Linked DNA regions of Homo sapiens: region 2 is linked to region 1. Evidence: fine-mapped expression QTL. Tissue or cell type: whole blood. Region 1 holds a variant in brackets; the other region holds the start of a gene. All regions are shown on one strand. Distances are from middle to middle.

What was found. PIP is the estimated chance that this variant, and not a neighbour inherited with it, causes the effect.
Region 2: EGLN2 starts here. The variant in region 1 is fine-mapped to the expression of EGLN2 in whole blood (TOPMed, PIP above 0.99).

The regions. Positions count from the first base shown.
Region 1 is chr19:40,828,656-40,836,734 of GRCh38, reverse strand. No RefSeq gene overlaps it. Among named protein-coding and RNA genes, the nearest start is that of CYP2A6, 18 kb to the left of the region's middle. The variant G/A (reference allele first, on the strand shown) is at 3,928.
Region 2 is chr19:40,794,325-40,802,400 of GRCh38, reverse strand. It overlaps EGLN2 (egl-9 family hypoxia inducible factor 2), which reads right to left and starts at 3,210. Exons shown (of 6, transcript NM_080732.4): 1 at 3,139-3,210; 2 at 986-2,062. The coding sequence starts at 1,828. It overlaps RAB4B (RAB4B, member RAS oncogene family), which reads right to left. Exons shown (of 8, transcript NM_016154.5): 8 at 5,459-5,831. MIA-RAB4B (MIA-RAB4B readthrough (NMD candidate)) reads right to left here. Exons shown (of 10, transcript NR_037775.1): 10 at 5,457-5,831. RAB4B-EGLN2 (RAB4B-EGLN2 readthrough (NMD candidate)) reads right to left here. Exons shown (of 12, transcript NR_037791.1): 8 at 986-2,062. RefSeq lists enhancers at 1-596, 775-1,449 and silencers at 2,873-2,922, 3,073-3,432.

The DNA.
Region 1 (8,079 bases):
AAGAAGCTATCATTTCTTTTGATACCTATTGATCACGATGGGGAATGGAAATGGGTCCAGTGTGCTCTTGTCAATCCAGGAATTTTTCAGAGGAAGGGTTTAATATTGGTTGAATGCCCAAGAATCCAGGTTACATGGGAGGAACAAAGGGAGTGTGGGTTAATCATCATAATCCCAAAAATAGCACAGAAAGTGGGTATGGCCTCAGACATCACCCAAGGTGCTGAAAGGAATCGCCTCCCAGCCACAACACACCTGCTCTTTCCTCTCCAAACCACTAATGCCCATCCCAACTCCAGATTTTGGAAAGGGTCAACTCCCACTTTTAAAAATCCTGTTTAAAAGATACTTCTGGCTGGGTGTGGTGGCTCACACCTGTAATCCTAGCACTTTGTGAAGCCAAAGCGAGTGGATCACTTGAGGTCAGGAGTTCAAAACCAGCCTGGCCAACATGGTGAAACTCCATCTCTACTAAAAATACAAAAAATTAGCCGGGCATGGTGGTGCACATCTGTAATCCCACCTACTGGGGAGGCTGAGGCAGGAGAATCGCTTGAACCCAGGAGGCGGAGGTTGCAGTGAGCTGAGATGGAGCCACTGCACTCCAGCCTGGGTGACACAGCGAGACTGTCTCAAAATAAAATAAAATGTACTTCTGAGTGTGTTGTGAGTGTGTATCTGTGTCTGTGGGGAGGTGTGTGTGCACGTCTGTGTCTGTTTCTGGGATCCTTCTAATCTCATTAGTAGTAGCTTTTGTCTCCTTGGGATTTTATGTATCTGATAATATCAGCGATGAATAAAAGTTTTATTTCCTCCTTTTCAATTTGTACTGCATTTCTCTTTTGTACTTTACAGCAATGGCTATATTGTTTAATATGAGTGGTGAGAGTTGACATCACTGTGTTTGTTGGGTATGGAGAACCAGTCAGCCAAGAAAATACCTGTTAAGTACAATACTTTACATAGTTAAGAATACAAAGTATTGTTTTCATTTATTTAGCATCTTTTTGGTATGTTTGTCATTGAGGGAGTGGTAAGTGGGTATGAGAGTTAGTATAGAGGATTAAATGTGTAGGAAGTTATGACTGTTTTTATCCACTCATATATATATATGGGAGAGAAAAGGCTATATTTTATTATAGAGTAATGCATTTCTTATTTTCCATTGTTTGTTTTGCATAGAAAATTTCTAAAACTTAAAATAATACTCTCCATAAACCAATATTCTTCTGCGCTTTTTTTTTTTTTAATTGAGACAGAGTCTGCTGTGTTGCCCAGGCTGGAGTGCAGTGGTATGATCACGGCTCCCTGCAGCCTTGAACTCCTAGGCTCAAGTGATCCTCCCACCTCAGCCTTCTGAGTGGCTGACTATAGGCACATGCCACCACATCCAGCATCCAGCTAACTTTTTTTTTTTTTGAGATGGAATTTCACTTTCGTCACCCAGGCTGGAGCGCAATGGCCGGATCATGGATCACTGCAACCTCCGCCTCCCAGGTTCAAGCGATTCTCCTGCCTCAGCCTCCCAAGTAGCTGGGATTACAGGTGCCCACCACCATGCCCAGCTAATTTTTGTATTTTAGTAGAGACAGAGTTTCACTATGTTGCCCAGGCTGGTCTCAAACCCCTGACCTCAGGCAATCCACCACCCGCCTCAGCCCCCCAAAGTACTGGGATTACAGGTGTGAGCCACCACGCCTGGCCTAATGTTGTTGGTTGTTTTGTTTTGTTTTGGTAGAGACAAGGTCTCACTATTTCCCCAGGCTAGTCTCAAACTCCTGGCCTCAGCCTCCCGAATAGCTGGGGTTACAGGCATATGCCACCACGCCCAGCTAATTTTTTTGTATTTTTAGTAAAAAAGGGGTTTCACTGTGTTGGCCACGCTGGTCTCCAACCCCTGACCTCTGGTGATCCACCCCCGTCGGCCTCCCAACGTGCTGGGAACCAGTGCGCCTGGCCTAAAATCTTAAAAATAATAAAAGAAATGTTTAAATCCTATTGTGACGTTAATTGAAATCTGACCAGAGCCAAATAACAACAAAGTAATAATACTAATAACTAGCAACCCTCGTGAGTACTTATGTAGCAGGTTTTGGAGTTCCAGCCTAGTTTTGCCAAAACTCCTTATTTAATCCTAGGCCCCTGTCTCAGCCTCCCGAGTAGCTGGGACTACAGGTGCACACAACCACACCTGGCTAATTTTTGTATTTTTCAGTAGAGACAGGGTTTCACCACGTTTGACAGGCTGGTCTTGAACTCCTGACCTCAGGTGATCCACCAACCTCAGCCTCCCAAAGTGCTGGGATTACAGGCCTGGGGCATCATGCCCAGCCCAATTTTTTTTTTTTTTTTTTTTGAGACAAGGTCTTGCTCTGTCACTCAGGCTGGAAGGCAGTGGTGTGATCATAGCTCACCATAGCCAGGACCTCTTGGGCTCAAGCAATCCTTCCACCTCAGCCTCCCGAGTAGCTGGGACCACAGGCATGCGCCACAATGCCTGGCTAATTTTTTAATCTTTTGTAGAGACAGGGTCTCACTATGTTGCCCAGGTTGGTCTCAGACTCCTGGGCTCAAGCAATTCTCCTGCCTTTGCAGTGAGATAATTTAGGAATCAGAGAGACTGAGGGGTTGAGGAGGATTTCTTATTATTATTTAGGTGCACCGGCCCAGTCAGATCAACATCCAAAATGACTGAGCCCCAAACAAAGAGTCCAGTTACCTTTTAAGCATTTCTGGGGCAGGAAGAGATCTGTGCAGGGGGAAGCATACAACAGAAGCGAGAAACAAAGACACTTATTCAGTAGAGACATGCATTACATCATTTCTTACTTTTCAAGGAACGGCATATTTTACGACTTGAGATTATCTGTCTAGTGACCTTGCAGCTGCACAGCTAGAGAAACAGAGTCTTCACAATGCCTGGCAAAGGGAGAGATAAGGCTCCCTAGCCACAGAAAAACAGGCAGTTAATTTTAAAGGACTCCAGCTCTTTCTCTTCCTCAAGGGGAATTGGGTTTTCTTACGTAAGAAACTGAGCTTTTGCTTACAAAAAGAGCTCCAAAGGGAAAGAGCTGCTTACAGTGGCCTCAAATCATTGGCTGAATACAGAGCTGCACAGGCTGAGGGAAAGACTCCACAAAGCTGAGGAGAAAACAGCTACTGAGAAAAGAACGACTGCCGGCTGAGCAGCTGAGGGATGAACATTTTTTTTTTTTTTGAGACAGAGTCTCACTCTGTCACCCAGGCTGAGGTGCAGCCACGTGATCTCAGCTCACTGCAACCACTGCCTCCCAGGTTCAAGCGATTCTCCTGCCTCAGCTTCCCAAGTAGCTGGGACTACAGGTGCCCACCAACACAGCCAGCTAATTTTTAGTATTTTGAGATCACGCCACTGCACTCGAACCTGGGTGACAGAGTGAGACTCCATCTCAAAAAAAAGTAAATACATAAAAATAAAGCTGAAGATGTCCTCATTACCAAGGTACCAAGGTACCAAGGTAAGGTCCCAGAATCCTCCAATAGCCATGTTACATCTTCCTCCACAGCCTAGAATCTCCATGTTCATCCCAAACTTCCTCCCTCAGGACCTCCCAACAATACACATTTCCAAAGCCTCCTACAATAGAGGCCACCAAACTCCCATGTACACCAGATACCCATGTCCTGACCTCAAAACCCTTTCCTAATGAACTCAAATGGCCATGTTCCCCTACACAGTCTCCCTCAAGACAGAATTAGTGTGCAGGTGTCAGCCCCTTGTGATAGACAAGCAGAGGAAGAGCAGCAGTGGATCTAAGAACAGGTGAATGTCCACCACATGTCCTAATTGTGTGGGCTTGGCCTCCAGGATATCATCTTCTTCCTGCACCCTTGACTTTCAAGGAAGGAACAAATATGGAGAATAAAGGGGGGAGCCATAAGGAGGAC[G/A]AGGAAGATCTTAGGGACCTAGAAATAAAAACAGCACCTTCAAGGCGTTGAGCTTCCCTGTGCCTGATGCTGTGCTAAGGATAACTTTTCATGGAGTGTGCAATGCAGTCTTCACAAATCTGTGATAAAGGTTCTATGATCATCCACATTTTACATGTGAGCAAACAGAGTCAGAATCATTAAGATTCAACCACTGAAAGTACCTAGCACAGATGTAGTAGTCAGATCTGTTTGACTCTAGAGGCTATGCTTTTTTTTTTTTTTTTTGAGACAGTCTCACTCTGTCACCCAGGCTGGAATGCAGTGGCACAATCTCGGCTCACTGAAACCTCTGCCTCCCGGGTTCAAGTGACTCTCCTGCCTCAACCTCCCGAGTAGCTAGGATTATAGGCACCTACCACCACACCTGGCTAACTTTTGTATTTTTTAGTAGAGATGGGGGTTTCACCATGTTGACCAAGCTGGTCTTGAACTTGTGACCTCAAGCGATCCACCCTCCTTGGCCTCCCAGTGTGCTGGGATTACAGGCGTGAGCCACCACACCCAGCTGAGGCTATGCTCTTAACTACATTTACTCCCCTTCCTGCCCTTTCCCCTCAATCTGCAGACAGGGTACTAAGACCAACTGGGAAAAAATTCAAACTCCAGGGCACTGCCTGTTTCATAATAAACCACAGATCTCAAGTTTCAAACATTTTCCAATATGTGTTGGCAGCTTAGATGTCATTTGTTGACTCTTCTACCAAGGACGGGTGGGGGAAGGTAATAAGAAGCCCTAAAGCTGTGTCTGGTTTTGTAACAAGCACGTGAGTCCATAAAACCAAATGCCTGCATGAGATGTAATTGTCCACGTGCTCTCCCCCTTGGAAAGAGGCTGAAACCTTTGACTCAGTGATTCCTCAACATAAGGAATTTAGCAGATGTTAAAACCACAGTCTCTAATTCAAAATTTGAGCTATTAGGATCACTGGGTGTGAAATCATGGCCTCCAATTTTGTTGGTTGTTTGGGGTGGGTTTTTTTGTCTTTTTGAGACAGTGTCTTGCTCTGTCACCCAGGCTGGAATGCAGTGTCACAATCATAATTCACTGCAGCCTTAACCCCCTGGCTCAGGCAATCCTCCCACCTCAGCCTCCCAAGCAGCTGGGACCACAGGTGCATTCTCCCACACCCTAGTAGTAGAACTTTTTTTAATGTTTTTGTATAGATGGTGTCTCGCTATAGGGCCCAGGCTAGTATCCACTACCACCTCAGCCTCCCAGAGCAATCCTTACTCTCAGTTACGGTTTGTGGAACTATAAATTGGTACAGCTTCAGAGGAGAGTAATGTGAATGCTTTTCTCTAAATTACAAAAGAACATACTCTCAGATTCAGTTAACTCCACTTCTAGTAATGTCTCCTATGATGTACAAGAAAGTGTGCAAAATCACCTAGATTCATCAAAGAACTGTTTACATAATGAAAAATAGGAAACCAACATATGCACCAAGATATTGGTTAAACAAATTATGATGCATTCATTTGATAGACTTGGTCCATCAGAACCCCAGCAGAAAAATATGAGTGCTTAATGGAGGGACTTTTTTTTTTGAGTCGGAGTCTCGCTGTTTCGCCCAGGCTGGAGTGCAATTGCGCGATCTCAGCTCACTGCAAGCTTCGCCTCCCGGGTTCAGGCCATTCTCCTGCCTCAGCCTCCCGAGTAGCTGGAACTACAGGCACCCGCCACCACGCCCGGCTAATTTTTTGTGTTTTTAGTAGAGACAGGGTTTCACCATGTTAGCCAGGAAGGTCTCGATCTCCTGACCTCGTCATCCGCCCGCCTCGGCCTCCAAAAGTGCTGGGATTACAGGTGTGAGCCGCCGCGCCTGGCCAATGGAGGGACTTTTTACAAAGTGGAGGGCAGTGTGAAAGAACCCTACAAGACGTTGAAGCACTCTATGGCTTACAATAAGGAGACGCCATCATCATCCTTAGGTTGAAAGGTGCAGTGAGAGGGAGTAGTTTCCGAAACCGAGACTGATTGTATAGGGGTAAAAGAGAGCCCCCAGCAGGAGGGCATGGTTTCTGGCAGAGGAATACAACCATTGCTATCACACAGCCAAGCAAAATAATCTGACATTGCTCTTCTCTCAAACTTCCATTGGCCAAACCCAAAAATTTTTTTAATGTAGAGGTGAAGGGAGCATGGGTGGTACAGTTTATAGAGGCCACCCTTCTAAAAGACAGGTCATGGTGGAGAGTGGAGATGGTAGGGCAAATAGAATACCCAGCACAATGGCCAGGAGCTCACACCTCTAATCCCAACACTTTGGGAGGCTGAGGTGGGCAGATCATGAGACCAGGAATTCAAGACCAGCTTGGCCAACATGGCAAGACCCTGTCTCTACTAAAAATACAAAAAATAGCCAGGTGTGGTGGCACACACCTGTAATCTCAGCTACTCAGGAGGCTGAGGCCCAAGAATCACTTGAGCCCGGGAGGCAGAGGTCGCAGTGAGCCAAGATTGCCCTACTGCACTGCAGCCTGAAAGACAGAGTGAGACGGTCTTAAAAGAAAAAGAAAAAAAATTCCAACCCAACCTGACAGATACAGTGGATATAGTAAGTTACTATTTGTATATTTGTGTATGGAATAACCTGGAAACTGGTAACATTAGTATCAACTTGGCAAGGGAAACTGGGTTGAAGAAATTTCACTTTCCATCATTTTGTATCTTTTGAATTTTGGATAGTGTCAACATATTATCTGATCAAGGAGAAAAGAAATTTAAAAATCAGGTGTAAAGGGAGTGTACCTCTGCTTCCAAATTTAAGCCAAGAGCCACTGTGAAAAGTAGTTTGGTGATTTCTAAAAAAACTTAAAATAGAACTACCATCCGACCCAGCAATCTCATTATTGAGTATATACACAAAGGAATATCAATCGTTCTACCATGAAGACACGTGCACACCTTTGTTCACAGCAGCACTGTTCACAATAGCAAAGATGTGGAATCAACCTAAATGCCCATCAGTGGTAGACTGGATAAAGAAAATGTGGGCTGGGCGTGGTGACTCACGCCTGTAATCCCAGCACTTTGGGAGGCCAAGGTGGGTGGATTACGTGAGGTCGGTAGTTCGAGACCAAGCCTGTCCAACATGGTGAAACCCCGTCTCTACTAAAAATACAAAAAAATTAGCCAGGCATAGTAGCGGGCACCTGTATTCCCAGCTACTTGGGAGGCTCAGGCAGGAGAAGTCACTTGAACCCAGGAGGCAGAAGTTGCAGTGAGATGAGATCACACCACTGCATTCCAGCCTGGGCAACAGAGCAAGACTCTGTCTGAAAGAAAGAAAGAGAGAGAGAGAGAAGGAATGAAGGAAGGAAGGAAGGAAGGAGAAAGACAGAAAATGTGGTATATATACACCATGGAATACTACACAGCCATAAAAAGGAACAAGATAATGTCTTTTGCAGCAACATAGATGGAGCTGGAAGCCACTATCCTAAGTGAACTAATGCAGGGACAGAAAACCAGACACCACAGGTTCTCACTTATAGGTGGGAGCTGAACATTGACTACACATTGACACAAAAAAGGGAACAACAAACAGCAGGGCCTACTTGAGGGTAAGATGGGAGGAGGGTGAGGACCGAAAAACTACCTGTCGGGTGCTATGCTTATTACCTGGGTGATGAAATAATGTGTACACCAAACCCTCACCATTGCTGAAGAGACTGGCGGCTAAATAGAGCAGTGGGTGAAATGGTCCCTGAGTGACATGTTAGGTCTTTGTACATAATTTAAAATAATGTGGCAATATTAATTTTAAAAAAAGAGGAGTGCAGGAAGAGCCAGAGAGAGACAATGTGAGGATGGAAGCAGAGACTGGAGTGATGTGCTTTGAAGATGGATGAAGGGGCTTCGCACAAAGGAATAAAGGGGCGACCAGAAGCTGAAAAGGCGAGGAAATGGATCCTCTTATCAAGGCTCCAGGAGGTACCAGCCCTGCTGACACCTTGACTTTATCCCAGTGAAGCTGATTTTGGAATTCTGGGCCCCAGAAGTAAAATAATAGTTTGGGGTCTGTTTGTTTACTTGTTTGATTGTTTGTTTGTTTGTTTGAAATGAAGCTTCACTCTTGTTGCCCAGGCTGGAGTGCAGTGGTATGG
Region 2 (8,076 bases), 34 kb after region 1:
GGAATGGAGGGCAGGGACTGGGACAGTGAAGGGTGGGAGACATGGGGATGAGCTCCACCTGGGCCAACAGGCAGCCACCCAGTACCACCCCCAGGAGACTGTCCTCGATGCAGATGCCACAGTGGGGACCCAGGGCACAATGCAGTCCAGGGCCAAGCACTCGGCCCAGCGGGCAGCACCCCTTTCCTTCCCTCAGCCCAGGGCTCACTCATCACAGCCACCCTCCCCCTTCTGCTTCTCCTGCCTTGGAGACAGGATGGATGGACTAGAAACATGGGCCAGCAAACAGGGATGGACGACAGGAGCACAGGGAAGGATGTGGACAGGGACAGACAGCAACAGAGAACGGCCAGGTGAACTGTGTGCCTATCTACATCCCCGTGCTTGGTCTGGGGCCACAGACTGACACCAGGAGGCCATGAACCCCACCAAGGTCCACGCTGTGAATGTCAGCAGCTCTCATGAGTTTAAGAGGGTTCCTGGCAAAGTCAAGAACCACTGTGGCGATGCTTGAAGGCAGCATGCTCGTTAAGAGTCATCACCACTCCCTAATCTCAAGTACCCAGGGACACAAACACGCAGAAGGCCGCAGGGTCCTCTGCCTAGGAAAACCAGAGACCTCTGTTCACTTGTTTATCTGCTGACCTTCCCTCCACTATTGTCCTGTGACCCTGCCAAATCCCCCTCTGCGAGAAACACCCAAGAATGATCAATAAAAAAAGAAAAGAAAAAAAAAAAAAAAAAAAAAAGAACCACTGTGGCTCCAGGACAAACTCCTAGCTTATCAGGTGCACACATTAAGGCCCGTAGGGAGGATAAAGACCCCCCCAAGTCCCCACAAGTAAGCATACCCACTCCACTGAACTGCCTAAACCTTCTGTGACCTCCCAGAAGCCTGTCTCCAAACCCACTGTGCTCAGAGCACTGAATGCTGCAAACCAGGGTGCTGCAAAGCCCCTCCAAAGAGGCCCCCACCTAGCCTTACCTTGGTGCGCCCGTTGATGACATAGCTGCCCAGCCGCCCTGCGCAGTGGCGGATGACGGCGTCCACATGGGCCATGAGGGCACCAATGCTTCGACAGCCTGGTTCATGGCCTTCCACCCAGGCAATCTGGTCCCCACGGATGCTGCGCGGCGGGATCGCCCTCTGGCTCACTAGCTGCCCGTCTCGCAGGCGCCCACCCCGTTTGAGGGCCTCCACCTCGGCCAGCACGCGACCGCCCAGTGCTGCCCCCAGGAAGCTGTCCTTGACGCAGATGCCGTAGTACCGCATGCAGGGCACGATATAGTCCAGGGCCAGGCGCTCGGGCGCAGAGGGCAGCGCCTCCTCCATCAGCCCAGCACTGGCCTCACCACTGCCACTGCTGCAGCTGCAGCTCATGCCACCCTCCCGCTCTGCCTCCTGGTTCTCTTGCCTGGCCCAGGGCCGTTTGCTGGGTGAAGGGGCATCCCCACCATCCTCGGCCCATTTCCGTTTGGGGGCCTCAGGCCGTGCGCCCTGGGCTGCCAATCGCTGGCACCCCTTGGTGACCAGCGCTGCAGCGCCTTCACTCTGCAGCGGCCGCAGCTCACCACCATCCTGCCCGCCAAAACCGTCCCGAAGAGGGCTGGCAGTGGTAGAGGTGGCTGTGGCTCTGGGGGTCCCACTCCCTGCCGAGGCCTCACTAGGCACTCCTGGACAGTGGTAGGAGGGGAGCAGGGGACAGGGCAGGTAACTCTCCACTCCCATCCTGGCCCGGCCAGGCTCAGGCTCCAAGGGCTCTGACGAAGACCCTGGTAACTGAGGGAGAGCCTGACTTAGGGGCTGCGGCTGGCACGGGCTGTCCATGGCAGCAGTGTCTTCATCCCCCGGGCATGGAGGGCACCGCCCGGGCCCATGGTGCCACCCTCCTCCGCCTCCTCCTCCGCCTCCACTTGATGCAGCTGGGGGCCACCGGGCCTGGCGTGGGGCAGGGTGAGGCAGGGCAGACAGCAAGAGCTCTTCTCGTGCCCTGGGGGTTGCTTGCTGGTCCCCAAGTCCTCTGCGGTCCCTAAGGGCTTGGGAAGGGACCCTTCAGGGTGGCTAGAGAAAGGAAAAAAAAAAAGGGATGTGAGAGAAACTAGAGACAGGCAGGCAGGGGAAAGCCGGGATGGTATGGGCAGGAGTGGGGAAGACGACCAGGACAGACTTGACTATAGAGGCCCCCCAAAACCTGAGGCCAAGTCGGGGAGAGGACCCTGAGAATCTGGAGGTGCGGGAGTCCGCTGACAGATAAGAGGCAGTGATAGGGAGAGGCTGGAGGCCAGGGGCTGGGTAGATGACCCTAAGACAGAGGACTGTGGTGCAGGTTGTGGGACGCGGTAACCAAAGACAGAAGAAGGAGGGCTGGAGTAGAAAAGGGTGGTGTGGAGGAGTGGGAAAGGAGGGGGTTTGGAAAATAGGAGGGACCTGCCTCGGCGTTCCAGAAAGACAACGAGAAACGTGGGGGTTCCAGGGAGAGTCAGGGTGGGGGCGGGGGGGTCAAAAGACAGAGGAAACTGGGGAGTCCAAAAACAAAGAGAACGAGGGGCCCAGAGACAGAAAAATAGACCGGAGGGAAGCTGGGAGGGAGGACCCGGGGCGGAGCGGGACGGTGGGGTCGACCCGAGCCCGACGGGAGGAAGCCGGCCGGGGGCGGACACACGCCCAGACGGAAGGGAGGTCCCGAGACTGACCGACGGGAGGGGCCCTCGGGGAGAGGGTCCGCGGCGACAGAGGAAAGGACGGAGGAGGGTGCACGCACCCGGAGACAGGACGAGAGATAAAGGTGCCCCCATCCAGGGCACCCCAACGCCCCCAACCCGGGGCAGGCCCTGAGGCCCCTTCTGAGCGCAGTAGGCGACAGGGGCAGGGCCTAAGGGCCGCTCGGACCCCCTCCCCTCCCCCTCCACTCGGCCTCCGCCCGGCGCGCGCTCCCCGCCCCCACCCCAACCCCCACAACGGCCGGCACCCAACGTAACCGGCGCGCGTCCCCTCCCCCGCGCCGCACCCACATCCCCCTTCCCGGGGTCGCCCCGGCAGGCCCCGGCGCGCGCCCCCACACCCCGCCCGGTTCGCGCCGGCGCCCCGGCTCCGGCTTAGTCTCCTCCCGCTCCCTTCTCGCCCCGCGACCTCCTCACCGAGCTTTTTCCTCCGGCCCCGGCGCCGCCGTTTGTGCCAGCCGCCCTGCGCCGCACAGCGCGCCATACCCCGCCCCCACCGCGCGCGACGCCCCGCCCCGCCTCGCCCGGTGGGCACGTGACCGCGCCCCGCGGAGGGGACGGCGCCTGCGCAGGCCCGAGCCGCGCGGGGCGGGGCGGAGCGGGGCGAGGAAGTTCGGGACAACCCCCCTACCAAGGAGAAAGGAAACAGCGGTCCGTGGCCTACACGAGGTTCATTTGCATCCTCCGCCCCGCCCCCTTTGCGCGGGAGGGGGAACGCAGTGTGAGGGGCCGGGTCTGGGAGGGGGCGTTTCTTGCATGTTGGAATCAAGTGGCGTCGGCGGGGCGGGGCACGCAAATGATGTGATTTACATGGACAGGCCTACCCGCCCCCCGCCCAGCGCGGGGCACCGAGTTCGGCAGCGCGGTGCGCGTGACTTCATTTACATGGTCAGCTCCTCCTCCTTCTCGCCGTCCAGGAACGGAGGTGAGAGACGGAGAAATGGCTACGCAGTTAGTTGAGAAATGTATGTAAATTCGCACGTCAGTAATTTACATAAGTATCTTTTATAACGGAGGCAAAAAAGTGCGGGTTGCCCTTGAGAAAAGGGAACGCGGACTAGAAGGGATGTGCAAATGTGTATTTTCAAGACCCGCTCCGGCCTGCCCCCTCGGGACGATTGTGGGAATCAGAATAAAGAACCAGGGAAAGTCTGGGCAACGGAGTGAGACCTTATCTTTACACAAAATTAAAAAATGAAACAAAAAAAAATCCACGGAACGCTACACAGAGAAGACATTTGCATGGCCAGCTGGGAACACTTTAGGAGACTAAGGAGATAAGGTCATTTTGAATGCCCTGCCCGCTCCACCATTGCTCTGGAGAGCTGGGACTCAAGGCTCCCGCCGGGTCGGTGAAGGCCGACGTGGAGATGGGAGGGCGACGAGCAACTGGGAGTGTCCTCGGGGCTGCACCAGTCCCCTGCAGGCCACCTGAGGGCGTAGGGCGGTTCGCGTGAGCACAAGGGCATGCATACTGGTATCCACACATGCGTGAGGATTGCACAAAAGCCCGCAGTCCTCAGGGCACACACAGGGTTCATGGCCACACAAGGGTGTTTCTAGTTTAGTTTTGTTTTTGAGATGGGGTCTTACCCTTTTGCCCAGGCTGAAGTGCTGTGGCATGATCATAGTTCACTGCAGGCCCAACCTCCCAACTAAAGTGATCCTCACACCTCAGCCTCCGGAATAGCTGGGACTTCAGGTGTGTACCACGACACCTGGCTAACTTTTTCTGTTTTTTATTTTTGTAGATAGGGTCTCTCTGTGTTGCCCAGGCTATAGTCTCCAACTCCTGGGCTCAAGTGATCCATCTGCCTTGGCCTCCCGAAGTGCTGGGATTACAGGCATGAGCCACCACGCCTGGCCACACATGGGTGTTTAAAAGGAGCCAAATTCACACCAAAACACACACAGACCTCGGGGTACACATGCACAGGCACACACGCAGTAGTGAGTCACTGCCTCTGACTCTCAGGCATCAGACATGCACACACCGGAGGCCCACCTATAGGTCCAAATTCCCATCCCCTGGCCTTGATGTCCCAAACAATACCAGCCTCACCAATACAATGACCAAGGCCACAGAGCAGTTACGGCTGTCAGCATCACACACAACCAGCACACATTATATCCTATAGACATCATCCCATATGCAGGTACTGGAAACATGTACACATGTCACAAACACAGGGACATCAGCGTGTTTACACACGTGAGCTTAGAACACAGATTGTCACAAACTGTCCACACAGTAACAAATTCCCTCCCTCCGCAACAGGCACCTGAGTCATCATGCTTGGTATACCCCACACCACGTCCAATCAGGAAACAAGGCCCCCAAGGCCAGGCCCAGTGGCTCACACCTGTAATTCCAGCACTTTGGGAGGCCAGCGCGGGCGAATCACCTGAGGTTGGGAGTTCGAGACCAACCTTGACCAACATGGAGAAACTCCATCTCTACTAAAAATACAAAATTAGCCAAGTGTGGTGGCACATGCCTGTAATCCCAGCTACTCGGGAGGCTGAGGCAGGAGAATAGCTTGAACCCGGGAGGTGGAGGTTGTGGTGAGCCAAGATCACGCCACTGCACTCCAGCCTGGGCAACAAGAAGGAAACTCCATCTCAACAACAACAACAAAAAAACAGAAACAAGGCCCCCAAACACCATGACACATGATTCTTCCATCAGGGACCTCTTCCATCTCCCTGCCATCTCACAATAATGGAGGCCAAGACACAGGTGTAAACAATGCTTTATGGGGGTAGGGTGGGTGCTGGACAGGCCTCCAGGTAATAAATAACAGGTACTAGCAACAGCAGGGCCAGATGGGGAGTTGGGGACAAATGACCCTGGTCTCAGGCTTTGGGAGCTCTTGGGGTATGGTTAGGGGTTCAGGGGGACAGACGTTAGCCAAGACAGAGGAAGCAGCAGCAGGTACGGGATTCCCCCTTCCCCCGTGGCTCAGTCTTGCCCCAAAGCCAGGCCCCACCAGGCCAGGGAAGGGGGACAGGTGGCAACGTAGCTTCTCCGGGGCCAGGGCAGGTTAGGACACGGCCTCTCAGAGCCTGGGCCTGGGCCCCAGCAGGGCTGGTCCTGGAGAACAGGTGAGCTGAAAGAGAAGGGTGTGGTGACCTGCAGGGTCCCCGGGGTCTGTCCAGCCGGTCTCTATCTCATTTCCAGGTATTTCCTTCCCCTCCTATCTGCATCGGTCTGTCCATACCTTTCTTCTCCCGGTTTCTACATTGTCTGATTTTCCGCCTCTCCCCTGCAGGTAATTTGGGGCTTGTGCTGAGGGTACCTGCATCTCCCTCTTTGTTTGCCTCAGAGAGCTGTCTGAGTCTGTAAAGCCACATTTCAACATCTAAATATCATGAATCTGGATGGACGCAGTGGCTCACGCCTGTAATCCCAGCACTGTGGGAAGCCAAGGCAGGAGGAATGCTTGAGCCCAGGAGTTTGAGACCAGCTTAGGCAACACCACGAAACCCCGTCTCTACAAAAACATACAAACATTAGCCAGGTGTAGTGGCATGCACCAGTAGTCCCAGCTACCTGGGGGGCTGAGGTGGGAACATCGCTTGAGCCTGAGAGGTGGAGATTGCAGTGAGCCAAGATTGTGCCACTGCACTCCAGCCTAGGCAACAGAGTGAGACTGTCTCAAAAAAATAAATAGGCCGGGCGCGGTGGCTCATGCCTGTAATCCCAGCACTTTGGGAGGCCGAGGCGGGCAGATCACCTGAAGTCGGGAGTTCCAGACCAGCCTGACCAACATGGAGAAACCTCATCTCCACTAAAAATACAAAATTAGCCAGGTGTGGTGGCACATGCCTGTAATCCCAGCTACTCAGTAGGCTGAGGCAGGAGAATCTTGTAAACCCAGGAGGCAGAAGTTACGGTGAGCTGACATTGCACTATTGCACTCCAACCTGGGCAACAAGAGCGAAACTCCATCTCAAAATAAATAAATAAATAAATAAATAAATCGGCCAGGCACGGTGGCTCACGCCTGTAATCCCAGCACTTTGGGAGGCCGAGACAGGCAGATCACAAGGTCAGGAGTTCAGACCGCCCTGGCCAATGGTGAAACCCCGTCTCTACTAAAAATACAAAAATTAGCCAGGCGTGGTGGTAGGTGCCTGTAGTCCCAGCTACTTGGGAGGCTGAGGCAGGAGAATCACTTGAACCCAGGAGGCGGAGGTTGCAGTGAGCCAAGATCACACCACTGCACTCCAGCCCGGGCAACAGAGGGACACTCCATCTCAAAAAATTTAAATAAATAAATAAATAAATAAATAAATAAATAAATAAAATGAACCTGCCTTTGTATCTTTCTGTGTCCCTCTATGTTCCTGGATCACCCTGGCTCTAAGTCTCATTTCACTGTTCCCCAAGCTGGGGAGACAACGTTAGGTTAGTGGTTCTCACTTTGGTTGTATATAGCATTACCTGGGAGCTTCCAGAAATCCTGCAACTGGCTGGCTCACATCTTTTTTTTTTTTTTTTTTTTTTGGAGATGGAGCCTCGCTCTATTGCCTGGGCTGAAGTGCAGTGGCGCGATCTAGGCTCACTGCAAGCTCCGCCTCCTGCGTTCACGCCATTCTCCTGCCTCAGCCTCCTGAGTAGCTGGAACTACAGGCACTTGCCACCACGCCTGGCTAATTTTTTTTTTTTTTTTTTTTTTGTATTTTTAGTAGAGACGGGGTTTCACTTGATCTACAGATCAAGCCAGGATGGTCTTCATCTCCTGACCTTGTGATCCGCCTGCCTCAGCCCCCCAAAGTGCTGGGATCACAGGCGTGAGCCACCATGCCCAGCCTGGCACACGTCTTTAATCCCAGCACTTTGGGAGGCCAAGGTGGGAGAAATCGTTTGAGGCCAGGAGTTTGAGACCAGCCTGGGCAACATAGTGAGACCTCATCTCTATTTATCTTTTAATTAAGAAAAAGTCCTGAAACCACTTCAGAATCTCTAGGGTGAGGCCTGGGCATCAGTATCTTTTAAAATTCTCCAGGTCATTCTAATGTGTGTCACTGCCTTGGTGGGGAAATCAGTTTGGTGGGTCTTGACCAATTTTTAAATTCAAACAGAATAGCACAGAACGGCAAATACCAGAGTGCATCATATATAATAAGAATATTCTATTGGTTGGGCAGGCACAGTGGCTCACACCTATAATCCTAGCACTTTGGGAGGCAAGGGCAAGAGAGGATCACTTGGGCCCAGGAGTTCAAGACCAGCCTGGGCAACATAGACACCATCTCTACAAAATTAAAACATTATTTAAAAAAAAAAATTTTGTAAATAGGCCGGGCGCAGTGGCTCATGCCTATAATCCCAACACTTTGGGAGGCTGA